2 separate regions of the Homo sapiens genome follow, and region 1 is linked to region 2. Evidence: fine-mapped expression QTL. A gene starts in region 2. The other region holds a variant in brackets. All regions are shown on one strand. Distances are from middle to middle.

Region 1 (11,102 bases), 320 kb before region 2:
CCTGGAAGATGTAAAGATAGGACCCACTCAAACACTTCAGAGACAAGAGAACAAAGTCAGGGGTGAGAAGGAACATAAGTCAAGGGTGAACAGTACAGGCCTCCTCTAGACATTAAGACATCGAATGCAAATGAAGGTCATTATCTGTGCATGTGGACAGGTCTGTGTCAGTATAAATGCTGATCGAGTAGGGTTTAATTTGCCAGTTTCAACAATTGGAGGAAAAGAAGGGAACTGAGGACTTTTCAGTTAATGTGTCCTGACCCTGGAAACCTCACCTGTGGAAATCCACACTGGCACCCATCAGAATCCCTAAGCTGCTTAAAAATAGGAGTCTGCTCCCAGAATCACCAGCACCCTCCCGGTTTCCTATCAACGACATGATTATGGAGTGCGATTTCTACAGTCAGCCAAGCCTGGTTTGAATTCTGGCTCAGCTCCTTCTGAACTGTTCCTAGGAAGTCACTTAACCCCCAGCCTGGCTTTTATCTGTAAAAGGGATAAGCCATCATCAGCATTCTGCAACTTGTGTCTTTTTCTCCCCAGTCTGTGCTGATTTTTTTTTCTCCTTTCTTTCTGCTAATCTATGACCCTAGTGACTTCATCCTCTCTTTCAAAACCTTTTTCAAAAGTTACCTCTGCCGTGAACCTCCATCCATCTCTCCCCATCCCAGAAGTCCCTTCCTCCGGGTTCCCCATGGAGCGTAACTTTAACAACCAAATACAATACTAGAGGTGAGAGGATTTTACAAACCGAAGAGGGCCAAATGTATGTAAAGGATTAGGAATATTTCTCCTCATCATTCGCACAACCCCTCTGAGAGTAATCTTAAGTAAGCATCTGCTTTGTCTCCTCTGTGAGGCTCTTACTACTTAAAGGGTGATTCCCGGGCCAGCAGCTTCGGCATCTCCTGGAAGGTTGTTGGAAATGCAGAATATCTCAAGTCCTGGAAGTGACTGCTGAGTCAAAATGTGAATTTTAACATGCTCCACAGGTGATTCATATGTACAATAAAATTTGAGAAGCATGGAATTCAACTCTAAGGACCTCAAGGGTACAGACGGCACAGAATCTCCAGAAAGCCCTCCAGAACCTAGGAGAGGCCTCTGTGCCTCTGTAATCGGGGTATTCAGCAAACACAACCACGTAATCGCTGCCCTGCTGGCAATAAAACTGAAAGCCTGGCTGCCTCTAGGCCTGTCAATGATGATACTTATCTGAACAGACCTGACTTCCAGTATCTTTACATAAAAAGCCTGAAAATTACATCTAGGTAAAAAGCAGGCTCCTTTAGGGTAAGTCATTATCAGGCCGAGCACTCAAGTCCTTGGTAACTGGAAGGAGAGTTGGCCCCTTCTCCTCAGAGGCAGCCAGCGTGAATCACAGAGACTCCCTCGATTTCACAGTTCATGCTCCTCACGCCACTATCCACCCCTGAACATTTTAATGATGTTCGGAAAGCACAGGTCTGAAAGGACAGCTGGCCCGGGACACCCACAGCGCACGTTTGGTGTCTCAGCAAACTCTGCCCGAGAAGTGTTCTCTAACAGCCTGAAGCAGCTTCCCCGCTTCCTGGGACACAGTATCCACACTTCCCATCAGCGAAAAGATTAATTTGGAACTCAAATTCCTCCATCATATGATCACTTCTTAACGATTAGTAGAGTGTCTCCCAGAAAGGCGAGGCTGAGGGCAAACACAAACCATGCTGGACTGCAGTGAGCAGTCACTTTGCCTCTAAGACACCTCTTAGAGAGTAGGTGTTAATTAAAAAGAAAGGGGAAAAAAGCACTATCAAGAAAAGAGGCAGATTCACATAGCGACAGGAAATCGGGCTATGGAGTTTGATCCAGATTAAAATCCCAGCCCCAGTTCCGTGGTCACGTGCTAATCTCACCGAGGCTCAACATTTCCCCCACTAACACAGGCCAATACCACCTATCTAGTGGTTCTGAGGATCACTCCAGAGAACACACGAAGTTCACAGAGCACAGCGCCCCATCCGTGAGAAGGGCTCAGGCAACATCGGATGTTATTCTTCTGTTGTGCAGCTCCCCGATGGGCTGCTGGGGCCTTGCTCAGAGCTGAGTAGGCCCCAAGTCCACCTTGCTCCCAGGAGGCCTTTCCACTCACCTTGATCATTTCTGCCACGTAACTCTCAGGCCCAGTATATTCGGTGGAGTCCTTTACTTTCACCAGGACGATGAAGCACAGATAGTGCCACATGTTGTGTTCTTCCTTGATGTGCTCTTCAAAGGTGACAGTCTTGTTGTCAAACTTGTCTCTTTCCAAGCCTAAAAATGAGACAAAAAGCCCCCAGCCCCAGCTGAGCAGCCTTGGTAAAGAAAAAAAATCAATAACAGAACTGTCAGTAGAAAGGGGGCTGTGGTTTCACTCCTGTCTTTATAAAGAGTTGGATTCTGTCGGCCTTATAAGTACATTCATGTTTACATTATGGCAGGAAAACACAGGCTGTGAGTCAGACAGACTTGGGTTTGAATCCCACCTCTGCCACTTGGCAGTTGCTGCTTCATCTCCACATGCCTTAGTGGCCTTGTTAGTGAATGGGGAGACCGCCGTCTAGGTTCCAGGAGTGTTTAGGGGTAAAATGAGAATGTGTGTGACACTCTCACATATTGCATGCAACCAGGGAATGTGAAGTCCCTTCGCCCAGGTAAATGCCAAAATGCAGACATGTTAAGGTTTTTTGAGGAGACAGAATAAGTAAGGACAACAAGAACTTTAAACAAATTTTGAACTCTAGCTGGTAGGTTTATAATTTGAAGAGGCCGGGGTGAGCAATTCTAGTCTGTACGTATTCTAGGATTGATCAAATAAATATATCACGGATAATGGGAGCTGGATTCCTCACTGCCTGAGAAAAGAACACAAATAGAGAAAGGGAGAAAGAATAAACCCTGTAATGCTGAAACGGAATTAAAGGTATCAGTATGAATTCATCCTTTTTCATACATATATACACAGATGTGTGCAGATACATGTGCTGTGTACACATACACACATATGCAGATGCATACACCTCTCCTCTAGATCTGCACCCTAATAAGCCCTGAGAGCAGCAGCACACCAACAGGAATGAGCACACTCAGTCCCCAGATCTTGGCTTCTAAATACCTTTCTCCAGTAAAAAGAACCGGGGCTCTTTGGAGAAATGGCTGATTCCAGGGATGGCTCAGGAAATGTACAAGGTGAGCCTAAGCCTGGAATATATTATGATGCCAAAAAAGTAAGAAAGTACATAGAAAACGATGATGACATGACTAAACCCAGGAGTCAGCTGGAAAGGGCTCTCACTGGCCACATCTGAAGCAATTTGAACATCAAAATAAATAGCCCATTGAATAAAATAAAAATCCACAAGTCCATGTAGTTACAAATACAAACACAGAAATATAAACACATATGTGGGGAGAAGAAAAAATTCTTTCTTACAATAAAAAGCCAATAAAGAAATGTAGAAATAATAATAACATAAAAATCATCATTGGGCAACCATCATCATAATAGAGTTAGCCAAGCATCATCAATGAATGCTAAAGCTGAGGGGTGAAAGTTTAAGGAATAGCACGATATTTACAGAGTGTCTCTCCAAAAAAGTAACTTTATGGAGTTACTGGAAAAACCTGGCAATTAGCACCTTAACCAAATGATCAACGTTAGTATCACGGCTGGGCGCAGTGGCTCATGCCTGTAATCCTAACACTTTGGGAAGCTAAAACGGGCAGATTGCCTGAGCTCAGTAGTTCAAGACCAGCCTCTCAGCAACATAGTGAAATCCCATCTCTACTCAAATACAAAAAATCAGCCAGTTGTGGTGAGAGGCACCTGTAATCCTAGCTACTCAGGTGGCTGAAGCACGAGAATTGCTTGAACCCTGGGAGGTGGAGGTTACAGTGAGCCGAGATACTAGTTACAAGATGAACTGGCATTACATGCCTCCTGATACGATGCAATGAGAAGAACACAACAGCATGTCTTTGATATTCCTGTGGAAAATACATACCCTCAATCTTACCATGAGCAAACATCAGACAAACTCAAATCAAGGGACATTCTACAAAATAATTGACCTACATTCTTCAACAGTGTCAGCGGAGGCTCACGAGGCATGGTGACTGAAGCCCCGCAGGAGGTGGGATTTGCAAAGGACATTATTGGAATGAAGGGTGAAATTTGAATAAGGTCTGTAGATGAGATAACAGTATTGGATCTGTTTTAATTTCCCAATTTTGATAATTATACTGTAGATACACAAGAGAATGTTCTTGTTTTTAGGAAATGTGTACTAAAATATTTAGGGATAAGAAAGCATCACTGTCAGCCACTCACATTAGAAAATGTGTGTGTGTGTGTGTGTGTGTGTGTGTGTATAAAGCAAATGAGATAAAATATTAATATTTGGGGATTCTGGGTGAAGAATATATAGAAATTCTTTGGATAGTCATGTCTTTTCTATAACTCTGAAATTATGCCAAAGCAAAAAGCTTAAAAAGGTTTTAAGGGGGCAAAAAGCAAAGAATTTAAGTCTTTAATTGGAAACTGATCTTTTTTTTTAGCATACATACCACTAGGAAATTTATATATTTAGTAGCTATATTATGAATAATCCTGAAATGATTACTCAGCTCCCCAGATTCCTCCATGATTAGTTTACATTTACAAATATTTTCCTGTAGTTATACTGAAAATGATTTGTTTGGTGTCCATGCACCTCTTTTACGTAGCCGTTCACTACTTCTCCTCCCGTGCCTATAGTGTGCCAGGTTCTAGCTAGGAGTGTTACATACGCTGTCTCTCATAATTCTCACAATAATGCAGAGAAGGACATGTTATTGTACCCATTTTACAGATGAAGAAAGAAGGATTAAAGATGTTAAATGACTAAATGATGTTACACAGTTAGTTAAGTGGTAGAAGCTCAGTCAGAACCCAGGTCTGTAAATACTTCCCAGCAGAATAAAGGCCAAGGAGAGCCTCACTCACGGCAGAGGGTAGAAGAGTCAAGACGAAGCAGCAGCCGGTGCCCCCTCCCGCATAACTGGGCAGGCACCCCGCCCATCACACCCTCGCAGTATCCACATGCCTCTGCCACGCTGGGCCTTCACGCCCTTGCTGGAGCTGGCCAGCGACACTCACCACAGATAAAGCACGTGGTCTTCAAGATCTCTTCCTTCTTCTGCTTCTCACTCCTCAGGTCAGCAAAAGTGTCAATGATAACCCCAAAAATCAGGTTAAGAACAATGATGATGACCATGAAGAAGAACAAGAGGTCATAAATAACTCTAGCAGCAAACAGGGGTTCCTGGAAAAGAGAGGTGTCTGGATCAGTCTGGGTCCCTTGCGACCCTTTGGTCTGCGGAGCCTGGGGCACAGCTCAAGTGAGACCTCATCTACTTGGGTAGAAATTAAATTGGGCATTCAACTTTTAAACTGAAAACTGCATCTCTTTTCATGTCCCCTGTCTCAATTGCGACTTCTCCAAGTGTGGTGTGACACAGCCAGGAGGGATATTCACTGTGCGTTCAGGTGGATCAGGCCTAACCCTGATGGAAACAGTCCCTAAGTCTACTGAACAGAGAGCCAAAGCCAACCCTTTCCACGCAGCTGACTTTGCGGCACCACCTCACGTGATAGAGAGGAAAGGAGCCTGATGAGCTAGTTCCGCAGCTACTCAGCCCTACTCCCAGCTCTTCCTCTGCGTCTTCAGTTTACACTCAACACCGCTGCATGGTGCTCCCACCAACCACCCCACCCGCCCCCTTTGCCCTTCCTTCCCCTCGGGATTAATTTACCTCTTTGGACGGCTTCCTGAGTACATCTCCTACTCCACCCCCGCTCCGCAGCCCGTGACTCAGCACAGTGACAATGCACATCAGCAGCGTCTCACATGTGTGCTCTTTATCCTGTTCCGTCTCTTCTGCAGGGACCAGCTCTGTGAACACGGCAAGTAACAACAGAGAGAAAACGTGAGGAGAAAAGAGAGACCGGGATTTTGAAATCCTGTTTCCTGAATGCCATCTCACCAGGCACACGAAAGAATAAAATTAAGGAATCAAGAGCCAAGAATTTTCTTATTTTCTTTCAAAAGCTAAAGTCGTCTGGGGCAACTGTTTTCATCGCTAACCCCCGCTAATTTCTCCAGCTATGGTAGTATTGCTCTCCCTCTGTGGGATCTAAAACATGCCCTGTCCTTTTCAGGTTTTAAACCCCAGACCCAGCCGCAAACAGTCTTTTCATGTCAGATGAGTTGCTTCGCAACTCTGAGTCACAGGCCTCTTGTCTCTCAGATGAGGGTTATGCCACAGGAC[A/C]CAGGTTCCTCACTGGGAATGGTGTGAGGACTATATCCAGGGATATTTCACGGCAGGGCCTCTGGATCAACTGCTTTACATTGGAGGCTGTTCATTCTCACTGGTTTATGCAGTAAGAGCCATGCCTTGCTGTGTGCCTCATTCCTTTCTCCAGCTGCAGAGGGTCTTGCTAAAACACAGATTTCATCACTCATCTTCCAACAACCCCTGACCATCCTCTGGACGAAGTTTAACCTCCTACGCCTGACATAGAAGATCCTTCATGATCTAGCCCTTTGTTTGTATCTGTGGCTTCATTTCTTGCCACTCTCCTTCCTTATAATCATTATCTCCCCAAACTTGCTGTTTTTTTCTTTTTACCTTTAAAGCCTTTAGATGTACTATTCCCTCTCCTTGGAATATCAAGAGTCTCCTTTTATAGTTTGGATATCACTTTCTTGATGATACGCTTAGCCCAGTAGTAGGCCGGGTGCCTAACTTCTGTATTCCATCCTTATTCCCAGCATTGGGCAACTCTCTAGCAATCACCATTTGGCCTGCCCGCACCCTCCACTACATTACTGTCTCTTAGAGTACACCACAGTCCCTGGCAAATGGCGGGCACTCAGTATAAATCGGCTGAATCACATCAGATCTTTTCTTCAGGTGTAACCTTCTTTTCCCTTCATCTCCCTCCTCTTTCTCAGCCTTTCCCCTTTGCTATAGCCTTACTCCTGAGCAGTAAATTTAATCTTCTTCCAACATCACCTGCATCAGCTAAGCCTCTGGAGGAGTCCGATATTAACATGGGGCTTACAGTTAGGAGGTCCTACCTTCTCTGGGTGCAGGAGAGGAGCAGTTCTCCCCACTCTCCACCCTACACACATCGGAGAACAGGAACTCGCTTGCCAAACTCTCGCCGGTTTCTGGGAGAGAGAAGGAAATTTTATGATGAACAATCTGGCAGCATATGGTTAAAATGTTTGAAGTCCCCAATTCACGGCTGATTAAACAATTCTTTACATAAATAACACCCTAGAATCTTGCATATAAATTCAAAGCAGAAATGCAATTTACACTTTCATTTGGTGATCTGGATGGGAAAAAAGCCAAAAATGTCAATTCCTGTAGGCTTACTAGAAATATCGCACTTAAATAGCACCTCTCCAACTTTAAAGACAAACAGCTGAAACTCTTAGACAGATACTACTGAACGTACAGACTCTGGCAAGATTTATACCAAGTCTGCACGAGAAGCATTAGCAGGCATTAATAGAAATCCAAGGTCCAGGCCAGTTTAGTCCACAACTCTAAGATGGCTGGCAGTAAATGTCACTTAGTGTCAACTTGGGAGGCTGGAGATACATGCCAAGAACACAGCATTTGGGAGGGAGAGCACAAAGGCTGGCTGGCTCAGTCAGCCACAACGATTCTAGTCTGTTTCTTAGACTCGGGATGAAAAACCAGTAGTATTTCACTAAGTCGGGCCAACTATTGTAACTGAGAGAAGAGGGCACTTGGGTACCATTCAAGTATTATGGTCATTTTTTTTCACTCTCAGAATTGGAAATCTCTTCTGTTCTTGCTATGTGTAAAAATAACATGAGCTCACTGTAAAACCTGCATATAGTAAAAAAGCCCCAGAGAGAGCTACTGCTAGCAGTCTGGAGGTACAGTCATCCATGTTTTAATATATGTATATGGGCTTTTTAATTTTTAAGAAAACATAAGACCAGGCATAGTGGCCCACACCTGTAATCCCAGCACTTTGGGAAGCTAAAGCTGGGGGATCGCCTGAGCCCAGGAGTTCGAGACCAGCCTGGGCAACATGGCAAGAACCTATCTCTACAAAAAATACAATTAGCCACATGCAGTGGCAGGCGCCTGCAGTTTCAGCTACTGGGGAGGCTGAGGTGGGAGGATTGCTTGAGCTCGGGAGGTTGGAGGTTGCAGTGAGGTGAAATCATACCACTGCACATCAGCCTGGGAGACAGAGTGAGATCCTGTCTCGAAAAAAAAAAAAAAAAAGACATACATGTGATCCTACTATAGTTATCCTTCTGCCATTTCCAACTACATCTTGTGGGTATTTTTCCATGGAGGTTTCTAAAGATGTACCTATGTGCAAGGCACCCCACCTCATGGATGTACCATGATCTGATGAAACACCCCCGAACATTTACACTGCTTCCAACTGTACACTGCAGCGAACGTTCTCCCATATATGTCTGTTTCTACGTGCACAGTCGGCAGCCTTTTTTTCTTTAAGTATTGATCCTAGAAGTAGATTTACTCAGTTAAAGGGATGCATACTCCAACGCTCTCAATATGTATGGTCACTGCTTTACAAAAAAGTTGCACTAGTTTAAAAGATGATGTTAGTGAATAAATAAATGTCAGATCTGGTCACCCACTCTTAGCATTTGATATGCCACATTGCCACATTCATTGTGAGAATGAAGACCTGTATTTGAAATTCACACTCTGCGTGTTAGGGAGATACAATGGGGAGATATCTGCATTACTAAAGTCGTTATTTTCTTTAGTTCAGTTATAATCAGGAAATAATCTTTTAGCATTAAAAAGATCAGAAGATCCCAAACCCACCTGGAACAGCTGTTTCATTGGGCAGCCTATCTACTTCCAAGATAAAGTCATCCTTGAAGAAAAGATAGCCCACTATTGAGAACAGGTAAACGAGGATCAGAGCCAGAACTGCTGTCAGGATGATGGACCGTCCATTGCGAGTGACACTTTTAATGACATTAAGCAAAGTCTCTTCTCTGTACACTAAATCAAAAAGCTTTGAAAACAAACAAAAAGAATTTTAAGAAGCCTTGATGTTAGATGTACATCACTATCCCATAATGCAAACTTGGTTTATAGAGAGTTTGCCCTCTTAGACACTCAAAAGCACTACATATGATCTTAACACTGAACATCTTCCCTGGCTTCACAGTGAAACGGAGATGGTAAAAATGAGGAAAAATAAACACAGAAGAGGAAGCAGGAAACAATAGCAACTTCAAGTAGTATCCAGAGCCATTTAGAGGGACTGGAAATAGAGAAAATACATGCTTGTGCCAATGAGTTTCAGAGACAAAGGGAGAGGAAAGTGATGAGGGTCTTGGCATCCATTCATTTAGAAGGTACTGAATTGAGTTTATGAAGAGCCAGCCACCCTGGTCCCTGCCCTCCTGCAGCCCAGTGTCTGGTGGGAAGGCAGACGTACTACAAGCCAGCGTCAGTGGCAAGAACTCTGGACTTAGATGTAAATTCAAATCTCAGCTCAGCTACTGTCCACCGTATGATCTCGGGCTAGGCACTTTCCTCATCCCCTCTGAGTCTCCATTTCCTCATTTGCAGACTGGAGGATGTAGAGTTGTTATGAAGAATAAGTAAACCACGTACGCACAGTGCTTAGCACACTGGCATCCATATGCTCAGTAAGTACAGTAAATAGTAATTATCATCAATTTCCTGATCAAGAGACTGGGGCAGGGTCACATAGCTGGTGTATCGCAGGGACATTAGTGACGTTAACATTGCGAGGGTAAGACCCCTGCAGGTCACAGTGCCTTCACAATCCAGGCTTGCCCTCTGCTAAGGAACCTGCTCTTTGCAAGAAGTTGGCTTCCTGAGGAATGGAGGATCCTTGTAGGTACATATAGGTATGGGAGGATGATGGCTAGTTTTCCAAGAGCTACAGTCACAGATACTTGACTGGGAGAATGGTGGGGAGTGTGGGGAGAGAGCTCTCTGAAGTTACTCTTAGACCTGAGGCTAGTTTTTAGCATGGCCTCTGGCTGCTGTCTAATCCTGTACAGAAGGTTTGGTCTCCACTGTGGCTTTGGGGTGTGACTGCACCATGAAGTGAGTCAGGGGACAGGGTTGAATCCTGACTGCTTTTAATTTGTTGCAAGATGTCGGCCAAGCCATCTAAGCTCTCTGGATCTGTTTCCTCATCTGTAAAATAAGTGGACTGAGACAGCTGATCTCTGAGTCCCTTCCAATTTAGAATTTTTCATCTGAGGTCATTTTCCGGTCGATTGGCTTTTCTGCCTCCTTGACACCAATCTGTGTTCTGAGACTAGTTCTGTGAAGGGCATTGGGTAGAGTAGGATACTTAAAGGGAAGCAAGGAAGAGGGATTTTAGTCAATACAATATGACAGAAGGCAAAGTGTTGCTGTTAATGTTGGTTAAATGTTTTCCAGCAGCTCAATATAAAGTGGCAAGTAAGCGCAACTTCAGACAACAAACAAATGGCACTTGTTTTCTGTGGTTAAGGACCGCAGAGATTACACAGGCTCCAAATCATAGAAATGACAAGCGATTTTTTCCTTTTCACTCATCTATAGTTTCTGATTTTAAAACAATCAATAAGTATTATTTATATAAAAGAAAAGCTTTCTTCTAATTGGAAAATTATACATGTTCAATGGAGAAAACTTGGAAAACAAAAAAAAGCACAAAGGAAAAAAAGTCACTAATAATTCACCATCTAGAGACATTCGCTCAATAGCTTAATTCCTTCTGGCCTTAAAAAATGCAATTTATAGATATATATTGTTTACAAAAATATTAGACCATAATACTGGCACATAACCAGCCTTTCACCAAGCCATCAGGAACATTTTCCTGTCAAAAATGATCACCTGGTATTTCACTATATGGGAAAAACATGATTAACATAACCAATATGTTTTTTAAAAACAGTCAAGATGTTTCCAATTATATGTCATAACAAATAATGCTGTGAGGAACACTTCTATACATGCCTCCATACGTGCTC
Region 2 (11,102 bases):
TCTCCTGCCTCCGTCCCCTGAGTAGCCGAGTCCAAGGTGTGTGCTACATGAATATGTATATCTTATGTAATAAGTAACAAAATTTGAGGTTTGCTTTAAGTTTGCACATGTGCAGGGGTCCACTTCACTTATTAAGGAGAATCACTGATGTGAAGCTTCTAATTCCTCAAGGATGCTGGAGAGCAGAATATTAGTCCTCCTTGTAAATATCTCTTAAAACGACACTGGATACAACGCAGGGTGGCGGTAAGACATAGGTTTGTGTTGAAACTCCAGGATTATCATTATGTTCTTACAATTTGCTCTCCAAGTCAACTGTACGTTCACCTATTTGTCAAACTTTCCTTTTCTACTGAAGTGAATTACAACTCCAGGTAAGTCCTGTCATTAACCAGACAGTCCAGAAATCTGGGTTTTACCCCCTATCGAGTTCCCATCTGGTATGTGATCCTGCCAACCTTACCAGAGTCTCTTCAGAAAGGACAATGTAGTTTTGTGATGTTGAAAACCACACTGAGAATTCCGTGAGAGTTTACAAGTCCTCAGATAAACCACTGTTGACCTGCAAAATCTGGTCCCTACAGGTCTGGACCTTGACTCCCTCTCCCTCCTGAACTCCTAGCACTCTCCCCTGGCCTTCTTCTCCTTCCTCCAACATGTCACAAACACTCCTATCTCAGGGCCTCTGTACTTGCTGCTCTGACATTTGGAACACACTTTTTCCCTGACAGCTACAGGGTCAACTCGTTTGCCTCCTTCAGATCTGTGCTGAGATGTCATGTAGTAAAGATCTAATCCCCACCTGAGTACTCCCTTAATACCCCTCATCATGTTTTGTTGCTTTTTAAAATTACTGTAAAATATACATAACATAAAATATACCACTTTGAAATGTTATAACTCAGTGGCACTAAGTACATTCACACTGTTGTGTGACATCACCACCATCCATTTCCAGAACTTTTTCATCTTTCCAAACTGAAACTCTATCCTCAATAAACACTAACTCCCCCTTCCTGTCTTCTATCTCCCCCAGCAATCCCCATTCTACTTTCTGTCTGCAGGGATCTGACTACTCTAGATGCCTCTATAAGAAAAATCATAAAATATGTGTCCTTTTATTTCTGGCTTGTTTCACTTAGCATGTTTTCAAGGTTCATCCACATTGTAGCATGTGTCAGAATTCCCTTTTTAAGGCTGAATAATATTCCATTGTATGTATATTTCACATTTTATCTGTTCATTCATCAGTAGACTTGTGTTGTTTCTACCTTTTGGCTACTGTGATAATGCTTCTACTGACACAGGTGTACAAATATCTGCTCACGTCCCTACTTTCAATTTTTTAAAGTATATACCTTGAAGTGGAATTGCTGGGACATATAGTAATTTTATGTTTAATTTTTTTTAGTAACTGCCATGCTGTTTTCCACAGCAGCTTCACCATTTTACATTCCCACCGGCAATGCACAAGGGATCTAATTTCTCCACTTGTTATTTTCTGTTCCCCCTTTAACCAGTTTTCTTTTTCTCCATAGCTTTTACTACCTCTAATACTATAATACTTACTTGTTTATTTATATTGGCTGCCTCCCACCAACTGAGATGTAAGCCTCTTGGGAACGGGATGGTTTGTTCATTGCTATATCCTGAGCACCTGGAATACATCTTAGTACATAGCAGGTGCTCAAGAAATTTGTTGAATAAAGAATAAAACATTTGAATCGCACACAACTTGAACAGGTCTTAGAGTCTGTTAAATAGATTTACCACACCATGTGCCTTAAACTACATCCAATTTAGAAATCTCAAAGTTGAATGGGTGACGGTTTCAGTGGTGTATCTGGCTTATTCTCATTAGCAATCATCTCAGAACCACAGAAACCAAGAGAATTGTAAGGAATCATAGAAGTTATGTCATTCACATCACCGACTTCAAGCCTTAATTGCATTCATCAATTGAGCTATGCACAAACTTAAAACAGCAAAAATGGAAAAAAAAAAAACTGCATGGACTTCTGGTTAACAGACAGCCTGCAAATGCAATGTGTTTTATTTTTAAAAATCAAACCAATAGTAAACAAGATAGACACTGGCCCTGTGGAGACTCCTTAATTAGATGTAGCCAAAGACAGCTTGACCTAGAAACCTAACTCCAGGCCTACTTTTATTTTGGCTGTTTTTTTCTGTTGTTCATATTTGGTGTTTGTTTTATTTTTGTTTGTTTTCTAAGAGCTGCTCATGAAGAAATCAGACAGTTTCCATGATATCTTTATAAATGAGTTGAAAAGCCATGTGATATTCCCCCCTCTGGAAGTCAGTTGGTTGCACACCATTGGATTAAAGGTTTCTTTTTTATCTTTCTCTCTGCCCACTCTCCTCCCTCCCCGCAATACCAACACCCTGATCTTCCTCACTTAAAAATATTTTGAAGAAAAGACTCTTGATCTTTCTGTGGAGTTCATCTATCTCTTTTTTTCTAAGCAACCATTCCACTTCTCATTCCTAAAGAAAAGATGCCAATTCCCTCCAAAAGACAATCACTTGGTTTAAATAGATACCATTGTCAACCCCAAATGACTTTCATGGGTCTCAAGGCAAGAGCCAGAGTAATTCACTTAGAACATGAAGAACTTTCCCTGCCTGATAAGAATGATATCTTGAAAGGATTTTCTGTTCTGATTTGAATTATTCAAAGAGCAGATTGTACTTTCAGTGTACATATGCATACACACACACACACACACACATGAACTTGAAAGAAAAAATGGAGAACAAAAACGTCTGCACAACTGGCTGCAAAGCAAACTGGAAGGTATATGAAAAGGTATCAACATTTCACATTGCAGTCTAACTGCAGTTTAAACTTTCGAATTATTCAGATGGGGAAACGCCTGATCCTTTTAACCTACTCAGATTCTTTGATGTAAACAATCAAGATGTATTTCAGCTAGGAGGTGAGCCTAATGCTTAACTTACATAATGTTCCTTGTGGTTTTGTTTCTTTTTACTCTCCCCATTCAGGCTTTCCAAAATGAACTCATTACAGTATCTAATACCTCCTCAAATATCTGCACTCTTTTATCCCTATGTTTGTGGCTACATCCTTTCCTTCTTACATCAATGTTATGTATTATTTCATCATTGGTGGGAGGTATGCAAGTTATTTCATCAGTAGCAGTAAGTTTACCATTTTTCCTAGCTTCCCTCTCACCACCAGCATCCCCAAATCAACTGAGGTCCATTTGTGGGATGCAGTACAGCCTCACCGCCTGAGGTTACACCCTGCTCCTACTTTGTACTAGCTACTGGGCAAGTGATTTCACTCTCTGCACCTCAGTTTCTTCACCTGCATCTGACGCACAGGGTTTCTGAGATACATGGCTCTGGACCTGGCTTACAAGTACTTAATGTGTCCATCTTATTATTTTTAGCAACCAGTTAGAAAAGAGTCTGTGGACCAGTTTTTCCTTGCTGTACAGCTAATTCTGAAAAGGGGAACTGGGCCTAATCCTTGGCTCTATGAGCACCCACACAGCCATGTGAGTCAACAGAACTCCAAGAAGAAACTAGAGTTCTCACATCCAAATGCTTCTCACTCCGCCAGTACTCCTGAGGATCTTATCAACAGGAAACAAAAGCACTATACCACTATAATGAAGTGTCTGACTTTTATTTTCTCATTAGAAAAGCCCAAAGATTGTAGCCCAGGGAACAGCTAAATATTTAGAATGTTAAAAAAGTTATTAAGACCCAGCCACCCACCCCCACCTACCTCTGTTACCCTGTTATTTACCATGTTCCTGAACATTTCAGGAGAAAAAACTCCTGATAGCCAAATCTGCAGCAATAGTGATGTACGTGCACCCGTTGAAACCTCCCACTCTTCAAATGCAGTCTGACCATTTTGGGGAAAAAATAGGAACTGTTGTGTTTACAGATAAATGCTGCTCTCAGCTCATATTCCACCACGGGCCCCAAAACAACAGGGACCTGCCAGATTCCTTGACACTCAGGTGGCTTGAGTCAAGGGCTGGATGCTACCACCTTAAGCTTCAATAACTCACTTCCCTTTTTAAAGTTCTAATTCTTTCAACTTGCAGCAACCACTTTCATTTCTTGCAATCCAACCTACTCTGATTAAGCACACGTTCAAAATTAGAAAAGAGTGACTATTTCTTGAAGGAGAGAGGCAGTTAATACTGCTTACACATTTTGGCATATGAAATGCACTGTATCCTTCAGAATTTAAATCATCAGCATGCTTTTCAGACCGGCAATGGGCCGCCGTTTTATTGCTCCATTTAATGGCCTTTTCCCCTCCTCTCTCATAAACTTTCAGGCTCCTTCAATTCTCAGCTACTTCCAAGAAACGGACTGTCCACTGGACCTCTGCTCCCAAAAGCCCTCACCAAAGGCAGAGGCAAATTTTGAAGACTGAGCCACGGAGTTTCTTTTTCTTTCTTACTCCCCACCTCCTTGGCGGTTTAGATAGAACTTAAAATAGGCTTAGGACAAAAACTCATTATTGACTACAGCACTCAGGCTTCCACACTCACCTGACCTGGGTCAGGCACTCTGTTGCCAAAGCAAGCCCAGCGAGGGGTGCAAATCCTGCTCCTCTGTAGTCAGCTCCTAAATATTTAGAAAGAAAGAAGACTGAGTACCAGACCGCGGAAGATGAGCTCTAACAGAAATGCTCCAAATTACAAGTTTCCACCTTCTTTAGCCTCCTTCACTGGGGACAGCCCCCCCGCCCCCAAACTTGGTAGGCAGGTTGGTGGGATCGCTTGGGCGAAGATTCCAGGTAACTACGCTTACTTATTTCCAGGATGTAACTGACAATTGAGACTAGGCACGCACAAACTTCGAACGTGCGGGAGGCTGGAACTAAGGGAAGTGTTTGGCAGATCCCAAAGCACTTGTTTCCCGGCGAGAAGGCCAAGTATCCGAAGCCCGCATCCTCATTGGACATGAGCTTCGTCCACACTTCATCCCTCACCGCTTCTCCGGTTTTCTTCCGTTTTTAAAAACCCTCCCCACGGGGGGCCCCTACACATGCATTATTCTCCCAACCACGGAGCGCAAGAGAGGGATACATTTTTAGAAAGATTATTTCCTTGAGCAGACTCACATATGACACCCCCACAACCTCTCTTCAAAAAAAAAAAAAAAAAAAGAACTATTTCCTGCAGCTGCAGCAACAGTTTCCAACTTGGGGGAATGCCACATCAGACCAGAATGGGGAGCCCCCAAAGCCACGCACTAGAGTAGAGGATATTTGTTTTTTAAGCTTCAAATGAGCTCCCCCCAAAACAACTGCCCGCAGTAAAGGAACCCCCAAATGCATGCCAAGTGCATGCACATCCATCAAGATCTCCCCGAGAGCGGGGCAAAAACTTCTGCGCCCGGGGAGCCAGTGCCAACTCCCCGCGCCCTCTGCCCGGCCCCAGCCGCTACCTTGGTGCCCGGGGAGCCACGCCGGTTTGGGGGAGCAGGGCGAGGAGAGGGGTTAGCAGCCGCTGGGTAATCCCATGTCCGCGAAGAGGGAGCTCGTTCCGTTAGGATGGAAGCGGAACACCCACACCTCCTCTCGGCGTGCGCTTTCTCTCTCTCCACCCCCTGCCTCCTCCTCCACCACCACCTCCTCCTCCTCCTCTCCTCCCACCCCAGCGAGCTTGAGGAAACGCTTCAGCAGCACATCCACATGGTTACTGCACTTTAAAGCGGCTCCGGGTGGCTTATATAGGCCGGGAAGCTCCCTGGGCAATGTAGTCCAAGTAGCGGGTCGTGGCGGCGCCTGAGGCTGCGGGGAGGGACTACAAGTCCCAGAATCCCCTGGGCGCCCGGGCTGGGCCCTAAATAGACGCGTGCGGGGACAGGGGAGGGGCGTCCTGCGAGGCTTTCAGGCTGCTGAGCCTGTTCCTTGGCTGGGGTCGGTAGGGCTTGGAGCCAGCCGTTCAAAGTCACCCCTGGGAAGCGCCCGCAACCCTTGGGGACGCCTCTCCTCCGGCTGCCCCCCTTCCCTGGAATCCAGGTGTCACTGGGGCCGGGGAGGGGCTAGGAGCTCGGATTTCTGCTTTGGGAAGTTTTTACAAGCCCACCCTCCCCCTGCCTTGGTTCCCCGAGCCAAGAATTTCAGAAATCCGGGGCACAAAAACGCCAGTGTTTGCGGTCAAGGATTAAAGGCGCGAGGTGTCTTTATTTAATCTGCTCCGCCCTGCTCGGGTTTGCACGAGAAACCAAGCCTGGGAGCGACGGTCCACGCAAGCGGAGACACAGGCAAGTCGCGTGAGAGCACTTTTCTGAGCCCGAGTTGCTTGTCTTTTATCGCCCGTGAGGAGGTAAAGAAAGGCAGACCTCTCCGGTGCACAAATAAAGGAGCCGTGTTGTGACTTGCCGGCTCTGAGATTGGGAGGCAGAAAATAAATACAAACCGCGACCTCAGTCCTGACCGTACCTCTAGCAGCCCCTCTGCTCCTGGGAGCTGTAAATGCTTAAGTAAATAAACCGCAAACCAGAAAAATAAGGGCTTAGGAAAGAGCCGCTCACACAGAGATGCGCATCCAGGCGGGGCGCTCTCCAAGAGCTCCGAATGGGGCAAGGTGGGTTTCACCCGCTGCCAAGTAATGCCTGGGCTCCCGGGCTACACGCTGCTTAGGGCTCCGGCTTTTGCAAGGAGGGGAAGAGCTAAGCCCGGAGGCAGTCAGCCGACTGCCCTGTCTTGCCTCAAATGACGTATATTCATTCCTCAAACGTTTCCTGAGTGTTTACTAGGTGCCAGGCGCTGGGGCATAGTGGTGAGCCAAACGCATTATAGCATCCCAGACAGGCACTTCCTGACGCCGCCTAAAGATCTGTTATAACAATAGTAATAATAATGATAATAATCAATGGGGAGGCTGATTTTATTGAGCCCAGACCACATGCAGTTTTCATGCGTCATGCTATTGAGTTTTACCAACTGTAGGTATATTTATTATATCTATTTGGCAGGTGCACAATCCAGGGCTCAGAGAAATCAGGTAACTTCCCAAATGACCCCTCGAGTTAAGTGGTACAGCCTGGACTCCCGTTCCAGACTCTACGTGTATGAAACCCTTGTCTTTGGGGAAATCCACCGCCATTGCCTTAAATAGCCTCTCTCCCCATTTAGGAGCAGCCTCTGAGCCCTTGGGCAAGTCATTTTCATCTCTTTGCCCCAGTTTTGCCATCTGAAGGAAATTCTTATTAGAATATGTCTACTTTTTAGCAGGATTCCTTAATATAAAATCGAGTCTCATGAAACTTTAGGAACAAATTAGAGGAGAATCATAGCTAATAGTTATTACTGACATAATAATGCCAAAACGAATCATAATTATTGACACTTATTGGGTGAATGCCATGTGTCAGGCATTGGTCTAAACTCTTTCTGTATAGCACCTAATTAAATCCTATTAAGCCATTTTTTACTTATGAGAAAACTGAGGGGGGGCACAAAGCGATTAAATTACTTCCTCCAAAGTCACACAAATAGCTGAGTCTTGAACCCTGGTCCTAAACTACTAGTCTCCGCTACCTCCCCAATGTAAACATGTGCACTGTATTTGCCTGCTCAGATAAGCATTTAATGTCAGTCCAGGAAGGGGCAAAGCTCTTGAAATAGACAAAGTTTGTGTTCACGATATTCACTCCTGCCCTCCGTTCCCTGTCAGCATTATCCCCTGGTCACTGGACGCTGGGGTCTAGTGCCTAATACGTTAAGCTGCTTCTCCCCATCATCAAGAAACTGCCGCATCTGCCATATAAAGGAGATGTTTCTCATTCGCCCCCACTCATCTCTTCCCCCATGAAAACCTCTTCCATTTTCAAAGGATCTTCGGCTCTACTTTTCAAGCAAATTCAACAAATCAGTGTATGCCTGTGTAACTGGTAAATAGTGAAGGGTAATTATTTCATGTGCTTCTAACTCAGAAACAATGGAATATTAACAGCGGTTTTCTGAAGATCCAGTTGGACAATTTTCATTTTCATCATATAATGGACATTTATCTCCTACCTGCATTATCCACTGTCTTCCCTCGGAGACCACAAATTTCACTGAAGGCAGCATCTATGTCTTATTCATGCTTGTGCTCTCTACCTCCCCTGACCCAGAAGGACTTATTCTTCTTTCTGCACATTTTAGTAGATGTGTTAAAAAAAAAAAAAAAAAGTTTGTTAAGAAGATGTTTTAATGGAAGGTGTGTCAGGCATATGGCAGGATACATGACCATATTTTTGGAGCATGCAACACCTCGTAGCCCATCTCTATCATAGCCTATTTTCTCCGCCTGTATGTATGGATAATCCTATTCAACATTTTTAAGGTCTAGAAGCTGCTAGGTCACTAGAAAGTAATTTTGCTATGATGTGAAGAGGTTCTCTATGATGATGTATGACTGATAAATTATGATGATTAATGTCAGAATATAAGGGTCACTGCCTAACTCATTCTCTGTTATCAGTAGAGGGAAAGGAGCTGCTTTCTCTTCACTATTTTTTTCTAGAAGAATTTTCTATCCCTGTGTTTTCCAGTATAGTGACTACTAGCCATTTAGGCACGTAAGATGTGGCTAGTTCTGAGATGTGAAATAGATGTTAACACATTGAATTTCAAAGACTTAGTACAAAAAAAAGCAAAATATCTTAATTTGTATAGTGATTACATGTTGAAGTGGTAATATTTTGGATATTTGTGTTAAATAAAATAGATTATTAGAATTTATTTTACCTGCTTTTTCCTTTTTTAATATAGCTACTAGGAAATTAAAAATTACATGTATAGCTCATATCATATATTATGCAGCACTGATCTAGAAAACCAAGAATCTGATTCCCAGGATCACAATTCGAGATGATGACCAGCCCATTAAAATGGCCATTTATGACTTTGCCCTTGAAATGTTCATGCAGGGAACTACGAGGGCTTTGCAAGGTCAGTACAGTATCATAGACTGAGCAGAAGTCTGAAGAAAGTCCAAAACTAGCACTTGAGCCTACCCCCAGGGAAGACCTACAAATAGAAGCAGGTTTCATCAGCAGTACACAGCTGAAAACTCTAACTGAATTCATCTGCCTAGAAGCCCACCTCAAATGCTGCCCTGGTTAAGAGAGCAAGATAAGCTGGAGAAAGGAGGGATCGGAGAAAATGGTTTTGACACCCAGCTGTACCATTTATATCCTGTTTTGTTTTGTTTGATAAAGTGATACTAACAATCCTTGCCTTGTCAATCTCACTGGGTCAATGGGTCATAGGACATGAAAGGGCTTTGCAAACTCACCCTCGCTATACTAAAGTAAGAGAATATTATTGACAAGAATGGAGATAATGTTGATGCGTCCTGATACAGTACTCAGTTCCAAACCAAACTTCAGATTATTGGGGCAGCACTATTCCCAATTTTCTCTCAGGCATAAGATTTCAATTGCCTATGGAGTGTAATTGGATTGTGACTCAAAGAATAAATGTTTGAGGGGGATGGATAGCCCATTCTCCATGATGCGCTTATTTCACATTGCATGCCTATATCAAAATATGTACCCCAAAATGTATACACCTACTATGTACCTGTAAAAAATTTAAAAAAAAAGAACAGAATCACCTATGAATGTCACAATGAGCCTTGAGTGCTTTAATTAATAACTCTAAATGACACTTAAATGGCAAGAAAGAATGTCCAACACCCAATCATAGAATTCAATCTATATTTTGGCACTGACACTATATTATCTAATGTGATGGACTACCATTGACCATGGAAAACATCAGCAAAGACAAATAGCTACTGCATAGCTAGTCCAACTAGTCTCTCTTGGTCATTGTGAATGTTTTATGGTGGAGGGATAGAGTCACAGCCCTCGTGGAAACTCACAAAATCCATGGGCACTTGCCCCAGCACAACACAGATACTGCAAATTTCTGCACCAGTTCTTAAGTTTCTTGTACCAGTCCTCTAAAAATCATTCATAGATACTCCCACAAGACTAGATTATCTTTTAGCTGTATTTTTCGGTGATTTTTGTCTCACCATTCAGATAACCTCTTTGAAGATAGGGACTAAGTCCTATAAATGTAGGACCCTTTGCAGCATCTTGTTCTGCTCTGGATACAGAGTAAGCATTCAGCACTTACTGGCTAATTGGAACTTACAAAGATGACCAGAAGAAATGACCTACAGACACTTAATCAACCCTACTTGACATGGAAAAAGTGGAGTTGCTATTCGAACAAGGGCAGGAGAGAGGACGACTTGGTATGGAGCTATAGAAAGTAAGATGTTTTCTGAATCCAGGCTCTAGATATCCTGTGAGAATGAGAGAAGACACAGCAAGAGGGCCTATTTTTGTTGTCCTATCTCTGAAGTGCGGAAGAAACTGCTGGTCAGTCACCTTGTGAGTGGAGGGAACATGGACAAAATGTCAATAATTTAAAATCTGGAAGGCAGCATGATAACTACAAAATAATGCAAAAATTAAGAATTCTTAGTACTCTATGCAATATGGAAGTAGCTGCTATACCATCTCTGATGATTGCTGCCAGTGTTGTCTAGAATCATGTAAGCAAGTAAAGAGAACTATTATTTTCTTATTCATTATTTTCCTGTAAAACATGCAGAGCCAGGGGTCTATTATTAACTACCCCATCTCCTGCCTCCCATCTGCAAGACTGTCATCCTAAATTGCTCTGGTAGACAAGCTAGATCTGGGGACTTGAAGAAATCTTGGAAAAGGCTTTTTTGTCTTATCCTAGTGTTTAAACTGAAATGAAATCTGTGTATCAAAGAAAAAACATAAAGCTCTTCCTTACAGAATAATTCAGCTAATACATGTAGAAGAAATAATAACATTAGCAAATTTGCAGCTTCCAGTATAATAATTTATTTAGATAGGCCAGGCACAGTGCCTCAAGCTTATAATCCTAGCACTTTGAGAGGCCAAGGTGGGCAGATCACTTGAGCCCAGGAATTCAAGACCAGCCTGGGCAACATGGCAAAATTCCATCTCTACAAAAAATATAAAAATTAGCTGGTCGTGGTGGCATGCACTTGTAGTCCCAGCTACTTGGGAGGCAGACGTGG

The links.
Region 1: its variant is fine-mapped to the expression of ITPR1 in skeletal muscle (GTEx, PIP 0.98).

Annotation. Positions count from the first base shown.
Region 1 is chr3:4,809,275-4,820,376 of GRCh38, reverse strand. ITPR1 (inositol 1,4,5-trisphosphate receptor type 1) reads right to left here. Exons shown (of 62, transcript NM_001378452.1): 56 at 8,917-9,112; 57 at 7,143-7,235; 58 at 5,815-5,954; 59 at 5,159-5,324; 60 at 2,135-2,295. LOC124906209 (a long non-coding RNA gene) reads left to right here. Exons shown (of 5, transcript XR_007095795.1): 5 at 5,946-6,085. Among named protein-coding and RNA genes, the nearest start is that of EGOT, 63 kb to the right of the region's middle. RefSeq lists a silencer at 1,895-2,281 and an enhancer at 5,103-6,302. The variant A/C (reference allele first, on the strand shown) is at 6,331.
Region 2 is chr3:4,487,964-4,499,065 of GRCh38, reverse strand. It overlaps ITPR1 (inositol 1,4,5-trisphosphate receptor type 1), which reads right to left and starts at 5,718. Exons shown (of 62, transcript NM_001378452.1): 1 at 5,461-5,718; 2 at 4,560-4,635. It overlaps ITPR1-DT (ITPR1 divergent transcript), which reads left to right and starts at 5,903. Exons shown (of 2, transcript NR_108075.1): 1 at 5,903-6,282; 2 at 7,698-8,749. RefSeq lists silencers at 3,787-4,081, 5,380-5,649.